Linked DNA regions of Homo sapiens: region 2 is linked to region 1. The links come from fine-mapping of genetic effects on gene expression. Tissue or cell type: minor salivary gland. Region 1 holds a variant in brackets; the other region holds the start of a gene. All regions are shown on one strand. Distances are from middle to middle.

The links. PIP is the estimated chance that this variant, and not a neighbour inherited with it, causes the effect.
Region 2: KLK12 starts here. The variant in region 1 is fine-mapped to the expression of KLK12 in minor salivary gland (GTEx, PIP 0.98).

The regions. Positions count from the first base shown.
Region 1 is chr19:50,507,553-50,515,645 of GRCh38, reverse strand. It overlaps JOSD2 (Josephin domain containing 2), which reads left to right and starts at 4,455. Exons shown (of 5, transcript NM_001270639.2): 1 at 4,455-4,529; 2 at 5,198-5,360; 3 at 7,947-8,072. The coding sequence starts at 5,215. ASPDH (aspartate dehydrogenase domain containing) reads left to right here and starts at 1,733. Exons shown (of 7, transcript NM_001114598.2): 1 at 1,733-1,874; 2 at 2,230-2,374; 3 at 2,635-2,719; 4 at 2,836-2,985; 5 at 3,066-3,286; 6 at 3,356-3,510; 7 at 3,873-4,043. The coding sequence starts at 1,823. The coding sequence ends at 3,916. LOC124904747 (a long non-coding RNA gene) reads right to left here and starts at 4,228. Exons shown (of 3, transcript XR_007067300.1): 1 at 4,175-4,228. RefSeq lists enhancers at 3,261-3,850, 4,154-4,273, 4,768-5,274, 5,275-5,782 and a silencer at 4,474-4,603. The variant GT/T (reference allele first, on the strand shown) is at 3,568.
Region 2 is chr19:51,030,762-51,038,854 of GRCh38, reverse strand. KLK12 (kallikrein related peptidase 12) reads left to right here and starts at 3,853. Exons shown (of 6, transcript NM_001370125.1): 1 at 3,853-4,049; 2 at 4,215-4,270; 3 at 4,716-4,875; 4 at 6,720-6,979; 5 at 7,934-8,067. The coding sequence starts at 4,234. RefSeq lists an enhancer at 239-739.

The DNA.
Region 1 (8,093 bases):
CCAGAGTGTGTCTCTCCACTGCAGACCCCCTCAAGGCTGCTCCAGAGGACGGGGTGCCGAAGGGGAGGGAGGCCAAGCGGGAGGCTGGGCCTGCGGCCTCTGGGGCACAGCAGCTGTATTTCTGGCCGGTTCAGTGGGAGGCTGGAGGGCCGGATCGGGTGGGCCTGGGGCGGCAGGGGCACCACAGTGCCACTCAGAAGGGCAGGAGCAGAGCCCTGGGAGGGCAGGGAGCAAACCCTGAGCGGGCCTGGCTGGGGGGTTGCTGGCACAGTGGGCAGCTGTTGGGTGGGTTGGGGGAGGGGGTGGTGATGTCTCTTGGGGGGTCAAGGTGCCCGAGTTGCAGGCCCTGGAGGGCTGGGGCTGGCCAGGGCTGCCATCTCACGCTGCTGGGGGAGGCAGAGGGAGGGACGGAGCCATGCAGGGCCTTCCAGTGCTTTCCCACGCTGAGGTGGCTTCGGGGACACAGCCCTGAGGACACACAGGCCTGCGCCCAGCCCCCTTCTCCCCTCGTAGTGGCCCAGGCTGTACCCCGTACACGGCAGCTATGGGCACTATGGGGACACTCAGGCCCCAGCAGGAGTCAGAAGGTAGAGATGGCGGGAGGCCCCCCACTTCCGTGAGGTGCCTGGCCCCTGCCCCCTTCCTGGCTCTGTCTACACCCAGGCATCTCATCTCTCCCACACCGGGGGCTCCTGGCTCTGGAAGCCAATTCCTCCCTTATCAGCAGCGGCAGCCTTTGGGTGCCACGTCGGGGTCTTGGCCCCTCTCTGTCTGCCCGCGTCTGTCTCCTCTCTCCTCCCGTCAACTTGGGGCTCTCGCCACCCAGTGCCCGCCCCCCCCACCCCATGCTCCCGTTCACGCTCTCTTTCTCTCCAGCCTCCTTCCAGCGCCAATCCTGGTTGCCATGGAAACACTGCAGCGGGTACCAGGTGGTGGCTGGGGGCAGGGAGCCTGCGCTGCCGCAGCCTGCGCCATTTCCGATGCCAGGCACCCTCAAGGCACAGAGGCTGGGGCTCATGTTGGGGGCACTTGGCCTCTCCAGGCCTCGAAGGCTTCTCCTGGGCTGACGCGAGCTGGGGAACGGGAGGGACGGACGTGGGAGCGAGAACGTCACACTGGAGGCAGCTGGTGGCACGATGGGGGACAGAGTGAAAGGTAGCAAGTCAAGGTGAACTGAAGGATGATCAGAGCGGAGGGAGGCTGTGGACAGGGGCGGAGGCTGTGGGAAGGGGACCCGTGCTGCGCAGCGGGGCTAGGGAGGTTGGACCCGCTGAGGCAAGGGCACATTGAGGAGAAGCCACAACCAGGGCTCCCGCTGCCTCTGGGAGGGCTAGGGCCACGGCCAGGCTGAAGCCTCCCTCAGACCTTAGCCGCCTGAGGACAAGGAGGAGAGGTGAGCACGAGGGGACAGACAGAGCCCAGAGTCCCTGTCACCATCTCTTCTCCCAACCCAAAGCAAGATGCAGTTTCCATGACAACCTGGCCGGCCAGAGAGGGGGCAGGGGACTGCAGAGGAAACTTTCCACATCAGCAGGGAGAAAGAGGGTGTGCTGCAGGGGAAAGGGGGGCACGCAGGGTTCCCAGAACCCCCGGTCACCATGCTCACTGTGCTGGACCCGGGAAAGTGGACAGAGCACAGGGAAGGGTTCTCCCGCCTCCACTCCCGCAGGCCCACGCCCCCACGCTGGGCCTGCGGGGAAGGGGGAAGACTGAGCCCAGAGGCTCAAGGGTCAGATGTCCAAAGAGCAGCGGCTGCCCAGGCCTTGTGCAGCGGGCAGCGAGCAGCCCAGGGAGCCAGGCCCCAGACACCGCACTCAGGGCCATGGCCGACAGGGGCCCGTGGAGGGTGGGCGTGGTGGGCTATGGCCGCCTCGGTGAGTCCCTGACCATCCTTGGCCTCCTTCCCCAAACCCCTTCCTAAAGCTCCCAAGACTCTCTGCCCTCCACAAACACTTTTTTCTCTCTCTATCTGCCCCTGGCTGTGTCTCTGGGTCTGCCCACTGCACCCCCACCCCAGGTCTCTGTCCTCTCCGTCTCTGTCTCCCTTCTCTCTGGGCCTCTGTCCACCCCACTGTGTCTCTGCCCTGCCCCCATCTCTGTCTCCCTACCCCGCAATCTGAGTCTGTCCCCACCTCCTCTCTCTCTGGGTCTCTGTCCCCACCTCCTCTCTCTCTGGGTCTCTGTCCCCCTCTCTCTGGATCTCTAGCCCTCTCCTTTCCCTCTCCCCAGGACAGTCCCTCGTCTCCCGCCTCTTGGCTCAGGGACCAGAACTTGGCCTAGAACTTGTTTTTGTCTGGAATCGTGACCCAGGACGAATGGCAGGGAGCGTGCCCCCTTCCCTGCAGCTCCAGAACCTTGCTGCCCTTGGGGAAAGGTCAGTGACCTTGCCATGGGAGAGTGGAGCTCCCTGAAGCTCCTGTCCTGGCTCTCTTAGCCACTGTGTGATCTCAGGGGTTCCCTGACCCTCTCTGGGCCTTGGTTCAAGCAAATGTGAAACAGGACGAACCCATTCATCTCATTTCGCCTCCCAGGTCAGGGAGAAGAAGGGCAGCCCTCAGTAGACTCGGAGGGAACCTTGGGGAGAAGAGGCCTAATACCTCTCCAAGACCCTCCGCCCTCTTTCCCCTCTCCCAGGCGCCCTGATCTGGTTGTGGAAGTGGCCCATCCCAAAATAATCCATGAATCTGGGGCACAAATCCTGCGCCATGCCAATCTCCTGGTAAGCCCCACCCCAACCATTTACGCAGAGCCCTGCCCCTTCTGTCTTGGTCTCACCCCACCCTGAAGTGGATATCCTTCCCTGACCTCAACCCTCCCCTCCTTCATCCACCCCAGGTGGGGTCCCCCTCAGCTCTAAGTGACCAGACCACAGAGCGGCAGCTCTTGGAGGCCTCACAGCACTGGGACCACGCCGTGTTTGTGGCCCGAGGGGCCCTGTGGGGCGCTGAGGACATCAGGAGATTGGATGCAGCTGGGGGCCTCCGGGTGAGGCCTGCTGGGCTCCCCAGGAACCAGGGGAGGCCTGCAAAGACCCCACTCCCCCTAACCCGGGCTCTTGCTTCCAGAGCCTTCGTGTCACCATGGCCACACACCCCGATGGCTTCCGGCTTGAGGGACCCCTGGCTGCAGCCCACAGCCCTGGGCCTTGCACTGTGCTCTACGAAGGCCCTGTCCGTGGGCTCTGCCCCTTTGCCCCGCGAAATTCCAACACCATGGCGGCGGCTGCCCTGGCTGCCCCCAGCCTGGGCTTCGATGGGGTGATTGGGGTGCTCGTGGCTGATACCAGGTGAGCAGAGCTAAGCAGGGTGTTGGGCTGAGTCCAGGCTCTCCAGACTGACTGCCCCTCTTGTCCCAGCCTCACGGACATGCACGTGGTGGATGTAGAGCTGAGCGGACCCCGGGGCCCCACGGGCCGAAGCTTTGCTGTGCACACCCGCAGAGAGAACCCTGCCGAGCCAGGCGCGGTCACCGGCTCCGCCACCGTCACGGCCTTCTGGCAGAGCCTCCTGGGTGCGGCCAGGCCCCTCTCCCCCGGCCCTGGGCTCCTGTGTTCTGCAGAGCTTGGGG[GT/T]CCCGGGCTCTCACTAGTTCTGCAGTTCTGGTTCTGTATTTGTTGACCTTTCTTTCTTTCTGACCTTTATTTCCTTAACCTCTCTCCATGACTTTGAATCCTGGCACTGTAGATGTCTCCATTTGTGCCCGCCTCTGATCGAGACTCTCTCTGTCTCTGTCCACCCCCAGGGCTCTGTCCCGCTCTCTCCGGGTCTTCCTCCACCGCCCCCCTGCCCTGTCCCCTCCTCCCACCACTGCCTCCCCCAGGCGTCTGTCTCCTCATCTCTCCTCTGTCTCATTCGCTCATTCCCCTCTCCCCGCAGCCTGCTGCCAGCTCCCCTCCAGGCCGGGGATCCATCTCTGCTGAGAAGCCTCCTCCCTCCCGAGACAAGATCATCTGCCTGGCCTCTCACCACCACCATCCCACCCCTGCCCTGCCCCACTTCCCCAGGGTCTCCCTTCTGACTCAGTAAAGATCACCGCTGCCTCCCCCCGCACCGCCTGGCGTCTCTGATCCCTTTCCCTTGTGTGACGTCACGCTGCGTCTGCGCACCGCGCATGACGCCATCGCCGGGGGCGAGCACCCATGAGAGCGCGGCGCCAGGAAGCTATCGCGAGAGCCTACCTACTAAGTTTCCTAGAATCTCTGAGCAGTAGTGGGCGCGGCCGTATGCGAAAGAAGGGCCTCTGAGGCGCACTTCCGGGACCTGCCGCGGAGCCCGACGGAAGTTGTAGTGCGGCATTTCCTAGGCCCGACGGCCGACTTCAGGGCCACGCGGCCCGGGCGTTCCGTGTGGAGCAGGAGTCCCGCGGGGCCCCACGGGAGTCGTAGTCCGGCGCGCGGGGATCACCGGGAGCTGTAGTCCGTCCCGCCTGCCCAGTCAGCGCGGTGTTGCCCGCCCCGCACTCGGAGCCCAGAGCCGCCGCCCAGGAAGGGGATGCGGAAACCCCTGGCTCGGTGGAGCGGAGAGGCAGGCGGGGTGAGGGGCGTTGCCAGGCAAAGGGCGAGCGCCGTGGCTGGGGTGCGGGTCGGCGAAGGGCTCCATTCCTTGGTGTCCGGGGAGGGGGCCTGGTTGCTGGGTGATAGGAAGAGGAACTCCTGTTGCTTAGTGACTGGGGAGGGGGCCCCGTTGCCAGGTGACAAGAGCAGAGAGCCTCGCTGCTACATGACCGGGGAAGGGGAGTCTTCTGTTGCTAGGAGACCAGAGGGGACCCTATCACCTAGAGACAGGGGAGGAGGATTCTCTATTGCTAGGTGCTCGGAGGACAGACTTTGTTACCTAGTGCGGTGGGGAGGGGGCTTTGTTGCTAGGTAACCACAGAGCGCCCTGGTTACCTAGGGACGGGGAGGCAGGTTCCTCTGTTGCTAGGTGACCATGATAGGGACCCTTTTACTTAGAGACCTGGTGAGGGTGGTTTTCTGTTGCTAGGGGAGCAGAAGAGACAGCGTTTTTCGTAGGAATAGGAATAAGGGATGGAGGGACGTGTGCTGCCAGGAGACTGCCAGGGAGCGGGGTCAGGGGCCCAGTGTCTTCCTGGGCTGCTCCGAGTCCCAGCTCAATCAATGGCGATGCCCCAAAGGCCTGCTGGGAGGCTGGACCTCTAGATCCCGGGCCCCTGAGGACCTTCTCCCCCTCCCAACCCCCAGCAGGAGCCGAGGACGGCATGTCCCAGGCCCCGGGAGCACAGCCGAGCCCACCCACCGTGTACCACGAACGGCAGCGCCTGGAGCTGTGTGCTGTCCACGCCCTCAACAACGTTCTGCAGCAGCAGCTCTTTAGCCAGGAGGCTGCCGATGAGATCTGCAAGAGGTGACCGTCACCCACCCCAGCCCCTGGAGCAGCAGAGCTCTGGCGGAGTGACCCACCTGGGTCTCGCCGCCAGGCAGGCGCTGAGCCTTGGGGGCTTTCTTCTGCTCCGCGCTCACTTGCCTAAGCTAGACGCTGGGACTCTGGGGAGATGTTGCCTCCTGTGCCTGTCTGTCCCTGTGGCCTCAGCCCCAGCCAGACCTCAATCCAGTGGTTCTTTCTTTTTTTTTTTTTTTTGAGACTGAGTCTCACTCTGTTGCCCAGGCTGGAGTGCAGTTGCGCGATCTCGCTCACTGCGAGCTCGGCCTCCCGGGTTCATGCCATTCTCCTGCCTCAGCCTCCCGAGTAGCTGGGACTACAGGCACCCGCCACCACGCCCGGCTAATTTTTTGTATTTTTAGTAGAGACGGGGTTTCACCATGTTAGCCGGGATGGTCTCAATCTCCTGACCTCGTGATCCACCCGCCTCGGCCTCCCAAAGTGCTAGGATTACAGGCGTGAGCCACTGCACCCGGCCCAGTGGTTCTTTCTTTAGAGACAAGGTCTGGCTGGTCTTGAACTCCTGAGCTTAAGTGATCCTCCCACCTCAGCCTCCCCAGTAGCTGGGATTACAGGCTCACCCAGCTTCAGGCATCTCTTATCTGGGCCCTGTCACAGCTCTCCAGTCCATCCTAAACACGCCCCCGCCCTACTCAGGGCCCTCCTCATAGCGGAGGCCGAGCCTGCCTCCGCATCTTCAGCCCTCACGGCCCCCCTCAAACCAGACTCTCCACTCCCGTGAGCCCTTCTGTGCGGCCTCTGGGCTTCCAGGTACTTCTTTCTGCCCGGCATGGCTTCCTTCTCTGCCAGCATGGAATGTTCCTCTTCACTATTCACAATGTCCAACATCACTCTTTGGCCGGGCGCAGTGGCTCACACCTGTAATCCCAACACTTTGGGAGGCTGAGGCGGGTGGATCACTTGAGGTCAGGAATTCCAGACCAGCCTGGCCAACAGGGCGAAACCCCGTCTCTACTAAAAAATAAAAATAAATAAAAAATAAAATTAGCTGGGCGTGGTGGCACATGTCTGTAGTCCCAGCTACTCTGGAGGCTAAGGTGGGAGAATTGCTTGAAGCTGGGAGACAGAGGTTTCAGTGAGCCGGGCAACAGAGCAAGACTGTCTCAAAAAAAAAAAAAAAAAAAATCACTCCTTTACCATCTCTCACTCCCTCCTCTCTGTCCCCATGTCCCTGGCCCCAGCTCAGGCCTGACCCTCTCCTGCCCAGCCTGCCCATGGCCTCCAGTCTGTCCCTGCCTTCAGTCCCCACTTGATCCTAGAGAGTCTTTCTACACCTGGAGATGGCCCTGCCTCCCCTGCCTCTTGCTCCAAGCCTCCTCCGGCTCTCGGACATCTTAAGAGTCCCAGCCCCTCAGACTGATTATTATGGTATTTAGTCATCTCCTCTATCATTCGCAACAAGGACCCATCAGCTCTTTCATACAAAAGCCATGCTGGAGACCCTGAGATGACTCAGACACAAGTGCCAGCCTAAGGGTGGTGAGGGAAACACACACACACACACACACACACACACACACACACACACACGAGCGTTTTCCTCCCATGTCCTGCCTGCCCAGGGTCCAGATAGGGAACAGAGGTGCAGCTGTTCAGAGGCAGGGCCCAGAGACAAGTGGTGACAGGCGGAAGAGCCTTCCTAGGCAGGGGAAGAGCTGGAGGAAAGGTTGGCGGGGGTGGGGCGGGAGGCGGTGGGCACCGGGGATGTGGCTGGGGACAGGGGACCAGGAAGGAGGGTGCTGAGGCTCTGAGGTGAGGCCACCAGAGCCAGACCACGCAGGGCCTTGTGGGACTCTGTCCTGGGGGAAATGAGGCAGCAGAGTGGGCTGTGAGCAGGGGAGGGGTGAGGGCAACCCCGTGGGAGAAGCAAGCAGTGTTAAATCAGGGTGATGCGGGCAGCTGTCATCGTTGAGGTGGCTCAGTTCACTGGGGGAGCCCAGACAGGGCCCCGATCCAGCCTGGAGGTCAGGAGGCTCCTCTCAGAGGACGTGACATCTGAGGTGGGCCTTGAAGGACAGAGGAAGGGACTGGCGGAGGGACAGGGACTTTGTCCAAGGCATTGGGGAGCCATGGGAGAGCTGAGAGCAGGAGAGGGCCAGGGCCGTGTGGGAATGGACTGGAGGGAGGCTGGAGGCTGCGGGAGAAGACAGAGCCCATCTGGGGCCTTGGGGACAGGGCAGAGTCAGGGCAGGAGAGACAGGACTTGGGGACAGGGCAGAGTCAGGGCAGGAGAGACAGGACTTGGGGACAGGGCAGAGTTGGGGCAGGAGAGGCAGGACTTGGGGACAGGGCAGAGTCGGGGCAGGAGAGGCAGGACTTGGGGACAGGGCAGAGTCAGGGCAGGAGAGACAGGACTTGGGGACAGGGCAGAATTGGGGCAGGAGAGGCAGGACTTGGGGGTGGATGAGTTGTGGGGTCTGAAGCGGGGAGAGTCAAAGGCTGAGGCAACTTGTGGCCCCTGGGACCCCCATTTTGTGGGGAGGCCTTTCCAGGGGTCCCCACCTCAGCTCTGGCCACCCCCACTACCAGGTTGGCCCCAGACTCCCGGCTGAACCCTCATCGCAGCCTCCTGGGCACCGGCAACTATGATGTCAATGTGATCATGGCCGCTCTGCAGGGGCTGGGCCTGGCCGCCGTGTGGTGGGACAGGAGGAGGTAGGCCCCAGAGCAGCACAG
Region 2 (8,093 bases), 520 kb before region 1:
CAAAAATTAGCTGGGTGTGGTGGCAGGTGCCTGTAATTCCAGCTACTCAGTAGGCTGAGGCAGAAGAATTGCTTGAACCCAGGAGGCGGAGGTTGCAGTGAGCCGAGATTGTGCCACCGCACTTCAGCCTGGGCAACAGAGCGAGACTCCATCTCAAAAAAACCCAACCAACTCAACAAACAAACAAAAACCAAAAAACAGGTATGATCTCTTGGTCATAAATTGAGGGGGGATCCCAGCAGGTCCCATTTGTTCAGATTCTTCTGGGCCTTTCTGTGTTGCATTTCTTCCTCTGCAGGACACCTGTCACATGAGGGTCTTCAGGGGAAAAGGAATTCTAGTGTCTGTGACTGCTTCAAAGGAGAAGTAAGGGGAGAGGAGAGGAAAGCAGGAGGAGGTTGGAGAGAACCTCTTGTTCCTGAGGTCTTCCAATCTCCTTCAGCTCAAAGCACTCAGCATGCTGAAGTTCCAGACTCTGGGCTATCACGTTCTGACATGCAACACAGGCAACACCCCAGCTCCATCCACGTTTCTCCAAAAGCACAGGCATGACGTCATATGGTGACAAACACCCTTGTCCAAAGGAAGCCCATAGGATACGCTAATTCTAGATTCACAAATACTCTAGAGGAACTCACACAATGGGATGGGCCAGTGCCCCACACAGAGTATGAGGCCTCCCACCTTGGTTGAATATCTTTTTCTTTTTTTTCTTTTTTTTTTTTTTTGAGACGGAGTCTCACTCTGTCACCCAGGCTGGAGTGCAGTGGCTCGATCTCGGCTCACTGCAACCTCTGCCTCCCAGGTTCAAGTGATTCTCCTGCCTCAGCCTCTGGAGTAGCTGGAATTACAGGTGCCCACCACCACAACTGGCTAATTTTTGTATTTTTAGTAGAGACGAGGGTCCACCATGTTGACCAGGCTTGTCTCGAACTCCTGGTCTCAAGTGATCTGCCCACCTCGGCCTAGTGCTGGGATTACAGACGTGAGTCACCACGCCCGGCCCCACCTTGGTTAAATTTCTGAAAATCATTTGGTAAAGTGAGGACCCCTCCAGCTGAGACACTGCCAGGAAACAGCTATTGAGTCTCTTAGCACCCACAGCATTAAAACAAACCCAAAACATTTTAGGCCTCGTTGAGTTCTGGAGGCAAAATATTCCTCATCTACAAATTTATTTTATTTTATTTTTTAATAAAAGTTATTATTATTTTTTTTTATAGAGAGACAGGGTCTTGCTCTGTGACCCAGACTAGAGTGCAGTGGTGTGACCATGGTTCACTGCAGCCTCCACCTCCTGGGCTCAAGCGATCCTCCCACCTCAGCCTGCCAAGTAGCTGGGACCACAGGTATGCCCCTCCCCCAGGCTAACTTTTTTTTACTTTTTGTGGAGATGAGGTCTCACTATGTTGCCCATGCTGGTCTTTTTTTTTTTTTTTTTTTTTTTTGAGACGGGAGTGCAGGCTGGAGTGCCCAGGCTGGAGTGCAGTGGCACAATCATAACTCACTGCAGCCTCAAACTCCTGGGGTCAAGTGATCCTCCCACCTCAGCCTCCCACATAACTAGGACTACAGGCCTGTGTCACCATAATGCCTGGTTAATTTTTTTAGTTTTTGTTTGTAGAAACAGGGTCTCACTATGTTACCCAGGCTGGCCTCTAACTCCTGGCCTCAATCCATCCTCCCATCTCAACCTCCCAAAGTGCTAGGATTATAGCCACGAGCCACCATGCCCGGCCCCATACTTATATTTACTTGTAGTGAGAACACTTAAACCCTACTCGGTCAGTAATTTTCAAGTACACAATACATTGTTACTAACTATATACATGGTATTTTTAATTTGCATGAATGCTCCTTAAAATCAGCGAGCCCGCCTTATTTTTTGTATTCAATTTTATTGGATATAAATTCCACATCAGTAAACCTGATTCTCTTAAAAATCTACACAGAAAAAAAAAAAGAGAGAGAGGTTGAGTTGGGTAGTTGTTGGTATTTTTGTTTTTGTTTCTTTGCTTATTCAGTTGAGGTTTATTGTAAAACTTGACACCAGAAAAAGGAAGAAGTGGCGTTTTTGTGCTGTGAGCGTGTGACGTGTGTCCTTTCCAGAGAAAGGACAGTCATGGTGCTTTTTTATCCTCTCTGCCCAAAGAAGGAAAGCTCTTAACAGCCAGCAGGAGGCTTTGTAGGGACCAGCGTTATCAACGCCAGTCGCGCTGACCAATGATGAGTTAAAGCAGTTAGGTCGTTTCTAAGAGCAAATCAAAAGCTAAGGTTCTGTGATTCTGAAAATGAGACACGGACAGAGACTGGAGACCCAGAGAGAAAGTGAAGGACTAAAAGACAGTCATAGGGTGGGAGTTTGCTCTCCTCTGTTTTGTTCTGGGTTTTTTTGTTTGTTTGTGCGCTCTGTCTGACCGCTTTTCTTTTTTTTCTTTTTCTTTCTTTTTTTTTTTTTTTTTTTTGAGATGGAGTCTTGCTCTGCCGCCCAGGCTGGAGTGCGGTGGCACAATCTCGGCTCACTGCAAGCTCCGCCTCCCACGTTCAAGGGATTCTCCTGCCTCAGCCTCCCGAGCAGCTGGGATTACAGGCATGCACCACCACACTCAGCTAATTTTTGTATTTTTAGTAGAGATGGGGTTTCACCATATTGACCAGGCTGGTCTTGAACTCCTGGCGTCAAGTGACTTGCCCGCCTCGGCCTCCCAAAGTGTTGGGATTACAGGCGTGAGCCACCGCGCCTGGCCCTGACTGCTTTTCTCTTGGTTTGTTTCTCAATCCCCCTTCCTCTGAGCCGAATTCCCTTTTTGTTCTCATTTTCTCTCTCTGTCCCCTCTCTCTCTCCTTCTTTCTCTCCTTCCATTCCTCCTAGATGAAGCAAAAACTCAGATAAACCAGCACAGAGGCCAGGTATGGTGGCTCACACCTGTAATCCCGGCACTTTGGGAAGCCAAGGCAGGCAGGTTGCTTGAGGCCAGGAGTTCAAGACCAGCCTGGCCCACATGGTGAAACCCCGTCTCTACTAAAAATACAAAAATTAGCCGGACATGGTGGCACGTGCCTGTAATCCCAGGTACTCAAGAGGTGGAGGTTGCAGTGAGCGGAGATCACAGCCCTGCACTCCAGCCTGGGTGACAGAGCGAGACTCCATCTCAAAACGAAAAACAAAAAACAGCACAAAGTTCCCTTGTCCTGTGACTCATTCTCTCTCTCTCTTTCTACCATTTCTCCTTCCCTGTGTCTTTTTTTTTTCTCTCTGTGGGTTTTATTTAAGCAATAGAAGTTCTTAGCAAAGAAAAACTTTATGGAATTAGATTGATCCACTTCATATGTACATATATGAACTCAGTTCAGAAACTCTCTTCTACCCCTGCCTGATCACCTATTTGGAAGTCTGTTCCTTCAACTCTTCTTCTCTTTCTGGGACTCTTTCTAGCTTGGGCTTCCTGCCCCTCCCGTCCACTCTCCTGCTTTCACAGCCTCTCCTTCCCCCTGCCCCTCCCCTGCACTGCATGGGGATGGGCCCCAGGTGTCCAAGGTCTCCCCACCCTCCTTTGTCACTGGAGTCAGGATTAGAACCCAGCTCCCTAGTCACCTTGAGTCATCAGTCCTGGGGCTGCTGACGGGCTTGCAGAGGAGAGAGGGAGTGGGGCTGGGTCTTCCCACCCTGGGTCCTTTCCTCCTTCCCCACTCCGTTTAGCTGTAAAGCTCAATTAAGTGTGATTAGCTGAGAAGAGTTTCTGCAGAATTAGAGCACGCCCCACCCCTGTCTTCGTGGTCCCCTTCCCTTAACCCGGAAACTGGATGGGCCAGGACAAAGAGAGTTAAGAGCTTTGTCAGTGGTCTGTCTGGAGCGACAGATGGAAGGAAAGGGACCGGTTGAGCAACATGACAGGTGGCTGAGGAGCCAGGTGCAGAGTGGTAGAGTTGGCTGGCGGAGTGGCCAGCACATGAGAAGACAGGCAGGTAGGTGGACGGAGAGATAGCAGCGACGAGGACAGGCCAAACAGTGACAGCCACGTAGAGGATCTGGCAGACAAAGAGACAAGGTGAGAAGGAGGTAGGCGACTGCCAATGAGGGAGTGACACACAGGGGAGCAGGTAGAGAGAGGACAAGCAGGTCATCCCCTTGGTGACCTTCAAAGAGAAGCAGAGAGGGCAGAGGTGGGGGGCACAGGGAAAGGGTGACCTCTGAGATTCCCCTTTTCCCCCAGACTTTGGAAGTGACCCACCATGGGGCTCAGCATCTTTTTGCTCCTGTGTGTTCTTGGTGAGTTCTCCCGGAGCAGGGAGAGGGCAGGACTGCGACTGGATCCCTTCACCCCCATGAGGAGGCCCCACCACCCTCCCCATCTCAGCTCTGGCCCCCAGCCTGGTGGTGAGGAGGAGAGGGGCTTTCTCTGTGCCTCCATTTACCTGCAGCTCTCAGGGTACTGCTCACCTCGGTCTCCCCTATTTTTTGATCCCTCTTCCCTTCTGTCCCTCTCTGAATCTCTGTCTCTCCATTTCCCTCCTATGTGTAAGCATCTTTCTCCCTGGGTGTCTTTGATGTTTCATGGTCTTTTTCTATCACTGGGTCTCTCTCTCTTTCTCTCTCTTTCTCGTCTCTCTTTCTCCTCTCTCTCTCCTGCCTGTTTCTCTCTCTCACTCTGTGTGTCTCTCCATCTCTGTATCTTTTCTTCCTCTCTCTGACCCATGCCCCTGTCTGTCTCCAGGGCTCAGCCAGGCAGCCACACCGAAGATTTTCAATGGCACTGAGTGTGGGCGTAACTCACAGCCGTGGCAGGTGGGGCTGTTTGAGGGCACCAGCCTGCGCTGCGGGGGTGTCCTTATTGACCACAGGTGGGTCCTCACAGCGGCTCACTGCAGCGGCAGGTAAGTCCCTTCCTGGGGTGGGCGAAGGGAGGACTATGGGAAGGCAAGCGCTGGGGGTAGGATCACAAGGGAGGGTGGTGCCCACTGGGAAGAAGCTGATCCTGCAACAAGAGAGTCTGAGGTTAGACCAGGAGTGGAACTTCCTTAGCAGTGGGCCTGGGGTGGTGCTGGGCAGGGTGAGGTATGTTGGGTGGAGGGCCGGGGAGGGTCCTGGAACCTGCCCTCCTGCCTCTCCCATTCCTGCATGTACCCTTTCTTTCCTATATGACATCTGCCACTCACCCCAGCCATTCCTTGACCCAGTCTGGGCCCGGGGCCCAGGTCTCACCCAAGCTCTTTTTCTTTTTCTTTTTTTTATTTTTTTGAGACAGGGTCTCGCTCTGTCGCCCAGGCTGCTGTGCAATGGCGTGATCACAGCTCACTGCTGTCTCTGCCTCCCAGGTTCAAGTGATTCTCCTGCCCCAGCCTCCTGAGTAGCTGGGATTACAGGCACCCGCCACCATGCCCAGCTAATTTTTGTATTTTTTGTAGAGACAGGGTTTTGCCATGTTGGCCAGGCTGGTCTCGAACTCCTGGCCTCAAATGACCTGCCCGTCTTGGCCTCCCAAAGTGCTGGGATTACAGGTGTGAGCCACTGCACCCGGCCAACATGACCCAAACTCTTTGTGCAACTTCAGAATCTATGCCTGGCACCTCTCTGGGCCTCAGTAGACTGATGTTCTGGAATTTTTTTCTTTTTCTTTCTTTTTTTTTTTTTTTGGAGACAGAGTCTTGCTCTTTCTGTCATCCAAGCTGGAGTGCAGTGATGCTATCTTGGCTCACTACAGCCTCAACCACCTGGGCTCAAGTGATCCTCACACCTCAGCCTCCCAAGGAGCTAAGACTACAGGCCTGCGCCACCACACCTGGCTAATTTTTAAATTTTTTTTGTAGAGACAGGGTTTTGCTATGTTACCCAGGCTGGTCTCAAACTCCTCAGCTCAAGCAATCTTCCTGCCTTGACCTCCCAAAGTGCTGGGATTACAGGCATGAGCCACTGTGCCTGGCCTGGAACTTTTTTTGTGAAAGGGGAGATCAGATGCAAAGAAACAGAGACTCAGGGAGAGAGAGGGCCAGCAGCAGGATGCAGAGAGGCCATTCATCAACCCACTCGTTCAATCATGAACCCACTCGTCCACGCATGAGCATGGAGGGCACATGCTCCGTGCCAGGCGGTGGGAATAAGGCAGTGAACAAGGTCCACTGATGTCCCTGCCTTCATGGGCTTCACCAGCCGAGAGAATCAGAAAGAGAGGCCTGGCGCGGTGGCTCACACCTGTAATCCCAGCACTTTGGGAGGCCGAGGCGGGCGGATCACTTGAGGTCAGGAGTTTGAGACCAGCCTGACACACATGGTGAAACCTTATCTCTACTAAAAATACAAAAATTAGCTGGGCATGGTGGCATGCTTCTGTAATCCCAGCTACTTGGGAGGCTGAGGCAGGTGAATTGCTTGAACCTGGGAGGTGGAGGTTGTAGTGAGCCAAGATGGTGCCACTGCACTCCAGCCTGGGCGACAGAGCGAGACTCGGTCTTGAAAAAAAAAAAAAAAAAAAAAAGGAGAGAGAGAGACACAGATGCAGGGACATGGTAGGAGAAACAGGGAACACCCAAGATGGAAAGAGGGTGATGGAGGTTGGGAATAAGAGCCTGTAAGAGAGACTCGGAGAATGAGAGTTGCGGGTGAGAGGACAGACAGTGAGGGGCAGAACAGTGGGGAGCGGCAGGAGCGCCTGAGTGTCCGTGGAGGGGTGCAAGGTGGGGGACTGCGTGCCTGCCACCCGCTCAGCCGTCGCCACCGGCAGCAGGTACTGGGTGCGCCTGGGGGAACACAGCCTCAGCCAGCTCGACTGGACCGAGCAGATCCGGCACAGCGGCTTCTCTGTGACCCATCCCGGCTACCTGGGAGCCTCGACGAGCCACGAGCACGACCTCCGGCTGCTGCGGCTGCGCCTGCCCGTCCGCGTAACCAGCAGCGTTCAACCCCTGCCCCTGCCCAATGACTGTGCAACCGCTGGCACCGAGTGCCACGTCTCAGGCTGGGGCATCACCAACCACCCACGGAGTAAGGGGCCCAGGGCCAGGGGTCAGGGGTCAGGATGGGTACAAGTCTGGGATGCAGGGCGAGAGGTCGAATCATGACACCTCAGAGGAAGGATGGGTAAAGGGTCAGGGTGTGGGATGGGACATCAGGATCATGGTTTGGGGTCAGAGATTATGGTGGATTGGGGTCTTGGGAGCCAAAGGGGTTAAAGGACTGGGTATGAAGTCAGGGATCAGAGGTCAGAGGTCAGAGTGTGTCAGAGGTCATCACACTGGAGCAAAAGGCATATATATATATATATGTATGTATAGGATATGGGCATTGTGGGTCATGGGTCTGGGGTTAGAGGTCACCGTAGAATTAAGGTCATGGGATCCAGAGGTTGTACAATCTGGTCAAAATCTGAGGATGGAAATTGGGATTCTATCCAAAATCACATATCTGAGATTGGAGGTCATAGCGTTTGGGGTGTGGGGCCCGAAGTTTGGGGTCATGGAGGCTGGGGCCCAATAAACTAGGATCAGGGGACACTGGCGTTGGAAGCAGTGAGGTTTGGAAGATGCAGAGCTGAGGTTGGAGGTTAAGGTAAAGACAGGGACATGGGGTCAGGAGACAGAAGATATGAGATCAAGCTGGGATCATAAGGTAATAAGACAGAAGGTCAAAGATCACAGTAGCTGGCATTGAAGAGGGTCAGGTCTGGATTCGTTGTCTCTGACGCTGGAGAGACAAGAAAGTTCTTGAGTTATGCCACTCAAAGTCAAATGTCAAAGATCAAAGAGACCGTCAATCATCTGGGGTCATGATTCATATGAAATTAAGTCATAAATATGTAACTTGGAGGTTTCGGGATTGTAGTACAGGTCGGTGAGGGGCAGGGGTATTGACATGGATGGGCCACATCCAGGGAAGAGGGACGTGGCCTCAAAGTGGGGAGATTTAGGGGACCCTGCAGCACGCATGTTCTCTCTCCAGACCCATTCCCGGATCTGCTCCAGTGCCTCAACCTCTCCATCGTCTCCCATGCCACCTGCCATGGTGTGTATCCCGGGAGAATCACGAGCAACATGGTGTGTGCAGGCGGCGTCCCGGGGCAGGATGCCTGCCAGGTGAGCCAGTGCAGGCAGCGTGCGTG